2 linked regions of the Homo sapiens genome follow. The protein of the gene in region 1 interacts with the protein of each later gene in a pairwise test. Each region holds a gene or a part of one and is shown in the gene's direction. Other genes may lie near its edges. The genes, in order: KALRN and MORC3.

Region 1 (4,564 bases):
GGAAACAGGTACTTTTTTTTAATGGGTGAAAAAAAATTAGACTGTTTGTGTCAGTGAAGAACGTGATGCGTACAGGGAGCCAGAAAGTGTTCACTAAAAACTAATTTAATTCATTTTATTTGCTACAAGTTTACACAGTTGGTGGATCTGCATAGGCCCCAGTTGCCTTGGCCCCCAGAGAGAGGTGGAACCAAACAGGTTACTAGAGACAAACAGATCCAGGAGATTCTGTCTGATGGGTTGCAGTCATTAACTTCAGACCAGTACCTGGTTTTCCTATTAGGCGTGTTTTAACACATTAGGTCAGGCCACCACTTCTCCATCTGTCTGGATGAGGCAACAGCGAACAGCGCTCAGCAGACCTTATTAAGTACTCAGGTCTTAAAGACCCTCTGTTTGGTGGGCTCTGTAGTCACTAGAACCATAAACACACTACTGGCTAATTATTGTTTAATTATTGCTTAAAAACTGATGGGCACAATACAATCACCGCATTAATTACCCCATACAGCATCTGTTTTCTTTTTTGCAGCCATCCCCATTCCTCCCCAGCCCCTCTCCCCACTTTAATTGAAATTCAGCTTGCTGTAACACCTCCTTCCTCCTGGCCAACTGGATCTCTCCATTCACATGAGGGAGAACAAAACCGAGAAGGCCCCAGGGATTAGAGAGTTTTGACAGCTGTCCAAGAGGAGCGCGGAGATACGGGCCAAGTACGGAGGCAGGACAGAGACAAACGAGGGACAAGAGAGTGACGGAGGGAGGGAGAGATAGGCAGGGAGACATCACAGGAGCATTAAACTGGACAAAGAGTCACAGAGACAGGCGGAGATGTTTAAAGGGGCGCTGAAAAGGGGAAAAGGACGAGAAAAGATAAAAAGGAGAGAAACTGTGGCGAGCTGGTGAGGAAAATGTGAGAGGCTCAGGAGGGCAGGGAGACAGAAGAGAGCTCGTCAGGAAGGAGGGGAAGAAAGGCCGGCCTCTAGGGACAGGTCAGTCCAGCTTGGAGACCGATCTGAAGATCCAGAGAAGGCGGGCGGGCAGCCTGGTGGTCCCCTCACACACCTGGGAGTGGAGTGGACGGAGGAGGTGGCCGCGGGGCCGGGAGGAGCACCGGCGGCGCGAGCGGAGAAGCTGAGCGCGCAGCGCCCGGGCCGCAGAGCCCCCTGGACAAGCCTGGCGTGTGCCCTGCAGCCCCGGGCTCGCCCGGCGGCCCCGCCCCCTCCCTGGCCCGGGCTTTTCCTGCGGAGCTCAGGAAGCCGGCCTAGCACAGCCTCGAACAATAGCTCGGGACTCGGGCTCCGCTCCCCGGGAGGCCGGCGCGGGGCCGCTGGGACTGGGGGCGTAGGCGCCGCCGGGGGCCCGCAGCGAGCCCTCGGCCCCGGCCGGAGCTTCAATTCAGCTCGGCGCTCCCGGGGTCATTGTTGGCCGGGACTGAGGGAGCGGGAGCCGGGGGAGGAGCTGGGGAGGCGGCTGCTGCGGCGGCGGCGGCGGCGGGAGCCAGAGGGGGAGCTAGAGAGCGAGCGAGCGAAGGAGGGAGGTAGCGAGTGAGCGAGTGAGCGAGGGAGGGAGGAGGTAGGGAGACAGGGAGGGTGGGAGGGAGGAGGAAAAATAAAGAGGAGAGAGCGGAGCAGGGCTGAACAATAGAGACAGGCAGACGGGCGAGCAGGAGAGCCAGCTGCCGCTGCTGGGGGACAGCGGGCGCCCAGGCAGCCCGCACCCCGGCCCCGGGCCCCGGCCCCAGCCAGACAGCAGGCGGCCAGCGCCCTGGGGAAGGGGTACCATGGGGGAGCTGGCGGCAGGCACCCCCAGCCCGCCGCGCGCCTCCGCCTGAGGGAGGCTCAGCGTCCTCTGCCCCAGCCCCGCCGCCCAACGCCCGCCCTCGAAGCTCCGCGGCCGCCAGCTCTGCGGCCGCAGCAGCTGCGCCCCGCGCCCTCCGCCCACCGGGCGCCGAGCAGCCCTCGGCCCCAGGCTTCTTCGGCTCCCGGCTGCCCGCGGACGCCCTCCCACAGTCATGAACCCCCCTGAGGGAGCAGCGGAGGAAGGAGGAGCAGCAGACTCGGACGTGGACGCCTTTTTCCGGACAGGTAAGCCGGGCAGGGCGCGGGGGGCCAGGGCTGAAGGCTACTGCCTCGGACGCGGCGTCTCGGACAAGTTTGGGGAAGGAGGGCTGTTGCTGCCGCGTGCGTGTTGGGGGGCAGTGCCCCCTCGGCGTCGGGGCTGGAGTTGCCGAGATTCTGGTTGTTATGGCAGTGCTGGCTGCGTCTGGGGAGGGCGTGGGGGCTGGGAACTCCGCGCCCCTCCGCCTTCACCCCAGTTGCGGGAGTCTGTGTTGGGGAGGTGGGAGGCGGTCCCCTCGGACCGCCTTCTCCCAGAGCGCGGGGATGGGCGGTGTTGGCTCACTTTGCAGCGCGCCGCTCCGGCTACCGGCGTCCCGGCCCCTCCCTTGGCTCCCCCTCCCCTGTGCCTGTCAGCGGGGCTCCCGGCGGCCGCCCTGGGTCGGCACCCCTCCTCGCCGTCGGGGGCCCGGGGCCCTGATGTGCACAGAGGGGCGGCGGGGACCCGGAGCCGCGCCGGCTGCAGACTGACAGGAGTGGGGCGGAAGACATCGGTCTCGCCTGGTGCGTGTGGGGAGCTGGTCCCTCTGACTTGAGAGGCAGACCCAGCTGGGAGGGCGGTGGGCGCCTCGGACCTCCCCCTTGTCCTCCTCTTCAGTTCTGGGAACGGAGGAGCTATTCATAAGAATTACTCATTCCTGGAAGTGTGAGTTAGCGTCCCTCTCATACACACCCACTAAGTCTCTGCTTGCTGTGAGGTGTAGAGCCCTGAGATGTCTTTCTAGCTCTTTGCGCCCCTGCCATCGTCCAAGTCCCGGGTCCATTGCTCCTCCTGCTCCCTGGCTACACAGTCCCTCCCTAGAACCGGCACTGACCACCCTTATCTTCCACCACCTGTGGCCCTGTTTCTCTGATGGCCAGGGATTCCCCGTCTCCCTGTACCTGTGGCTTCCACCAGCTTCTGTGTGTAGCTCCCCATCTCCCCACATGTCTGAAACAGTTTTGTCTGGAATCTTTGTCCCAAGGAGTCCAGTAAGTTACCGGGGCCCCATGCATCTGCTCTCCCTTCTGGAAAGTTGGATTAGAGGACATGAACTGGTGGGGGTCAGGGGTCAGGTTAGCTCTGGAGGGTCTCTGCACATCCATCTGTTTCCTAACCCTGTTACCTTGCCCTGGAGGTCATCTCTAGGGAAGGGGGTGGGGTGCTTTGCGGGGGAGACTTGTGGCTTTGGAAGTCAAGACTTGATTGGCTCATATGTTCATTCTCTAGTTGATGTGCAGAGGAAAAAACTGGAGGACAGGAGCTGGTGCCAGGGTCTGGGGAAATCAGAGGGAGCCCTGTCATTCTATTCTGCTTCCCAGGTCTAAGCCTTCTTTCCTTTTCTTTCTTCCTCCTTCCTTCCCTCCTTCCTCTTCCGAGACATGGATTCTATTTTCTTTCTTCTCTCTCTCTCTCTCATACACACACAGCCCAGCACCCAAAAGCATGGATTCTAAAGAGGTGGAATCTAGGGAAAAGGTGGTTCTGGGGGCTAAGTGATATTCAGAAATACTCATTATGAGGCAGAGGAGGGGAGATATGGGAATTCATAACTGGGACTAGAAACAAATTGACCAGTCAATCAAAAACCCAGCTGACCCCCCTTGCCTCCCAACTGGGGCAAAAGTCTGCATTTTCTTAGCTCTGAGGGAAAAATCTTGAAGTGTGAGCCTTCCCACCTTCCCTTTCTGGACTCCACTTTTACCTTTTGGTGCCCACTCCTCTTTCCCCTTTCCTATCATCCAAACACTAGGTCCTGTTCATTTTCTGTTCCAGGCACCCGTAGCAGAGCTCAGTTCCTGGAGGCTTGCTTATTTCTGATAATAAATTCACACAGTGTTAATGGCCAATAATAGTCCAATGTGTTACTTTTCCCAGGGCCTTTCAAAACACAAGGTGTGGCACACATTATCTAACCCTGGCTCAAATCACAGAATAAATAGCAGACTGGGGTCAGTCTCCTGTGGGATTCCTATGTTGGGGATATTCTCCCTCCTCCTTGGGCAGCCCAGTGGCTGAGCTAAGTCTGATGTGCACTTAGTATCAGAGAAAGGTTAAGTCATTGGTGCATGAGGCTGGAAATGACTGATGACCTGTAACATGTTGCAAGAGGGGGTAGGTCAAGGACTACATCCACCCTGTGTGGCCCTCTATGCTTGGCTCACTGACTGTCACCACACTTCTGGTCTCTAGCCTAGGCTCTTGCTGGGGATTCTTCTTCTTCTTTTTATTTTTATTTTTTGTTGTTAATTTTTATTTTAGGTTCAGGGGTACATGTATGGGTTATATAGATAAACTGTGTGTCACAGGGGTTTCGTATACAGATTATTTCATCACCTTGGTAATAAGCATAGTACCTGATAGGTATTTTTTCTGATTTTCTCTGTCCTCCCACCTTCCACCCTCAAGTAGGCTCCGGTGTTTGTTATTCCTCTCTTTGTGTCCATGTGTTTTCATTGTTTAACTC
Region 2 (3,805 bases), on another chromosome or scaffold:
TGAGGGTCTTGAGATGCATTCTCTGAGAATAAGGGGAGACTGCTGTACTCCTATCAGTGGAATTATACAATATTTGACTTGTGACTGCCTTATTCATTAATGTCTTCACGGTTCATCCATGTTGTAGTGTGCGTTAGGATTTCCTTGTTTGCTTAAGGTGAATATTTTATTGTATGTCAGAAGACAACATTATAAATTTAAAGATTTTTTTTTTTTTTTGAGACCGAGTCTCGCTCTGTCGCCTAGGCTGGAGTGCATTGGTGCGATCTCGGCTCACTGCAACCTCTGCTTCCCGGGTTTAAGCGATTCTTGTGCCTCAGCCTCCCTAGTAGCTGGGTTTACAGGCACCTGCCACCACGCCCGGCTAATTTTCGTATTTTTAGTAGAGACGGGTTTTGCCATGTTGCCCAGGCTGGTCTTGAACTCTTGACCTCAGGTGATCCGCCCACCTCAGCCTCCCAAAGTGCGGGGGTTACAGCAGGCGTGAGCCAGCGCGCCTGGCCTCAAATTTAAATTTAAAGATATTAATTGGCTTTATTTCTTTTTTTTTTTTTTTTTTTTTTTTTTTGAGACAGACACTCCCAGGCTGGAGTGTAGTGGTGAGATCTCTCAGCTCACTGCAACCTCTTCCTCCCATGTTCAAGCAATTCTCCTGCCACAGCCTCCTGAGTAGCTGGGATTACAGGCGCTCACCACCACACCTGGCTAATTTTTTTGGCTTTTGGTAGAGACGGGGTTTTGCCATGTTGGCCAGGCTCGTCTCCTAACCTCAAGTGTTCTGCCCGCCTCAGCCTCCCAAAGTGCTGGGATTACAGGAGTGAACCACCGTGCTTGGCCTTTATTTCCTATTCTGGAATTGGGCAACACTTCTTCCATAAAATACAGTAAGTGTTCTAGTGAACTGAACAGAGGAGGCTGGCTTTGTAGACAGAAAAAGGCCGAAAGAAAGCAGAAACAAAGAACAAAAAGCAGATACGTCATTTCAAAGTTAAAAACAATAGATAAATAACTGACTGACATTAGGTTACTTTTTGTTGTAAAACAACAAAATGGAGGGAACTTATTATCTGTCATACCAGTTGATGACTGAAACTGACCTGTTCGGTAAATTGGCTGTTATCTCCCTTGATTTCGCTGAAGGTCAGATAACAACTTAGTTTCAGTTTGGTGACTGAAATTTTAGCATGGGTGACTCCATTTTGATTTTTAGTCTGTTTTTGGAGGCCTAGAGCAGGAGCTTAGTCCAAAACAGTGGCCTCCTTTTTTGTTTTTTTTTTTCTGAGACAGAGTCTTGTTCTGTTGCCCAGTCTGGAGTGCAGTGGCATGATCTTGGCTCACTGCAACCTCTGCCTCCTGGGTTCAAGTGATTGCCATGCCTCAGCCACCCAAGTAGCTGGGATTACAGGTGTGTGCCACCAGGTCTAGCTAATTTTTGTATTTTTAGTAGAGACGGGGTTTCACCATGTTGGCCAGGCTGGTCTCAAACACCTGACGTCAAATGATCCACCTGCCGCGGCCTCCCAAAGTCCTGGGATTATAGGTGTGAGCCACCACGCCCAGCTGTCCTATATTTTTTATTTCACATTTACATACATTTGATATGATCAAAAATGTATATTTGTTCTTTGTCCTGGTTCTTGGCACTGGAGTTCCTGAAATCTTTGGTATTTCCTGATAACTATGAGTGGAACATCTTTTGTTATTTATAATAATAAGCCCCCCCCCGCCTTTTTTTTTTTTTTTTTTAACCACACCTTAGTTCATGCTCCCTCTGTCGCCCAGGCTGGAGTGCAGTGGCGCCATCGCAGTCTCCACCTACTGGGTTCAAGTGATTCTCCCGCTTCAGCCTCCCCAGTAGCTGGGACACAGGCGCGCACCACCACGCCTGGATATTTTTTGTATTTTTAGTAGAGACAAGGTTTCGCCATGTTGGCCAGGCTGGTCTTGAACTCCTAACCTCAGTTGACCTACTCACCTCGGCTTCCCAAAGTGGTGGGATTACAGGCATGAGCCACCGCGCCTGGCCAATTTTTTGTATTTTTAATAGAGACAGGGTTTCACCATGTCAACGAGGCTGGTCTTGTACTCCTGACCTCTGGTGATCCACTTGCCTCAGCCTCCCAAAGTGCTGGGATTACAGGTGTGAGCCACTGGGCCCAGTCTGTAATATCCTTTACATTGTATCTTTTAGCTTCCCTGGGCCACATTGGAAGAATTGTCTTGGGCCACATTGGAAGAAGAATTGTCTTGGGCCACACACACATAAAATATACTAACGATAGCTGATGAGGTAAAAAAAAAAAAAAGAAAAAGAAATTGTAACGATAGCTGATGAACTACAACAACAACAAAAAAAATCACGAAAGAAACTTCATAACGTTTTAAGAAAGTTTACAGGCCGGGCAGGGTGGCTCATGCCTGTAATCCCAGCACTTTGGGAGGCCGAGGTGGGCGGATCGCCTGAGGTCGGCAGTTCGAGACCAGCGTGGCCAGCATGGTGAAATCATGTCTCTACCAAAAATACAAAAAAATTAGCTGGGCGTGGTGGCAGTTGCCTGTAATCTCAGCTACTTGGGAAGCTGTGGCAGGAGAATCGCTTGAACCCGGGAGGCAGAGGTTGCAGTGAGCCGAGATTATGTCATTGCACTCCAGCCTGGGCAACAGAGCGAGACTCCATCTCAAAAACAAAAAAAAAAAAAGAAAGTTTACAAATTTGTGTTGGGCTGCATTCAAAGCTGTCCTGGGCCACATGCATCCCATGGGGGCTGAGGGTTGGACAGGCTTGCTTTACAATGAATCAGTGTTTTTTTTGGGTTTTGTGAGCATTATAGCACATTATCAAACATGAGGGGAATCATGTGAATGCCCAATTTATGGTTGGTCTGTCAGAAGTACAGGAGACTAAGGGTTTATAGTAGTTGACTAATTTCTCCTTGTTTGGTAGTATAAACCAAAAATAAAATTCTAAGGCTCTTCCAACCATTTTAATGGACTTCCTTCTCAGCCAGGGCACTCTTAACATTTAATCTGAAAGACTAGTTCAGGCCATGACAGGAAGTTGGGGTCAGACCTGCTTCATTATACTGCTCTGGCGTAACATCACATAACAAGGAAAGAAATAAAAATAATTCTAAATAGATTTCCTTGTCATATCTTGAAATTGCCTTGCAAAGTTTGTCTCTTGTGGAAAAAAATGTACATTGTGTAGAGAATCCTCTTTTCCCTTTTTTCTTTTCTTTTTTTGTTTTTTTTTGTTTTTGTTTTTGAGACGGAGTTTCGCTCTTGTTGCCCAGATTGGAGTGCAATGACCTGATCTCAGCTCACTGTAACCTCCGCCTCCTGAGTTCAAGCAACTCTCCTGCCTCAACCTCCCAAGTAGGTGAGATTACAGGCATGAGCCACCAGGCCCAGCTAATTTTGCATTTTTAGTAAAGATGGGGTTTTATCATGTTGGTCAGGCTGGTCTCAAACTGCTGACCTTGGGTGATCCACCAGCCTTGGCCTCCCAAAGCGCTGGGATTACAGGTGTGAGCCACCAGACCCGTCCTGAGCCACCGCACCTGGCCATTCCCTTTTTTTTTTCTTTCCAGATCCAGGAGATAATCAATTAAGAGTCAGGCACCCTTTTCAGTCTCATAAGAAAACATTTTACAGCCTCTTCTGTCTTATGCCTGCTAGCTAAGAGCTTCCTCTGCGTAGTAAAACTTTGGTCTCCACAATCCTTGTCTTAACCCAAACATTTCCTCTCTGTTGATCCCAGGTCCTTAGACAAACTCAACCAATCTTAACCAGAAAATGTATAAAT

Evidence for each region.
Region 2: the proteins of KALRN (region 1) and MORC3 interact in a two-hybrid assay, tested with the Homo sapiens proteins (one large-scale study listed by BioGRID and IntAct).

What each region holds. Positions count from the first base shown.
Region 1 is NC_000003.12:124,031,727-124,036,290, forward strand, and holds the start of KALRN (kalirin), read left to right. Parts: upstream 1-1,642; 5' UTR 1,643-2,014; coding exon 2,015-2,087; intron 2,088-4,564. UniProt on the Homo sapiens protein: Promotes the exchange of GDP by GTP. Activates specific Rho GTPase family members, thereby inducing various signaling mechanisms that regulate neuronal shape, growth, and plasticity, through their effects on the actin cytoskeleton.
Region 2 is NC_000021.9:36,326,615-36,330,419, forward strand, and holds part of MORC3 (MORC family CW-type zinc finger protein 3), read left to right. Parts: intron 1-3,293; exon of another isoform or gene 3,294-3,379; intron 3,380-3,805.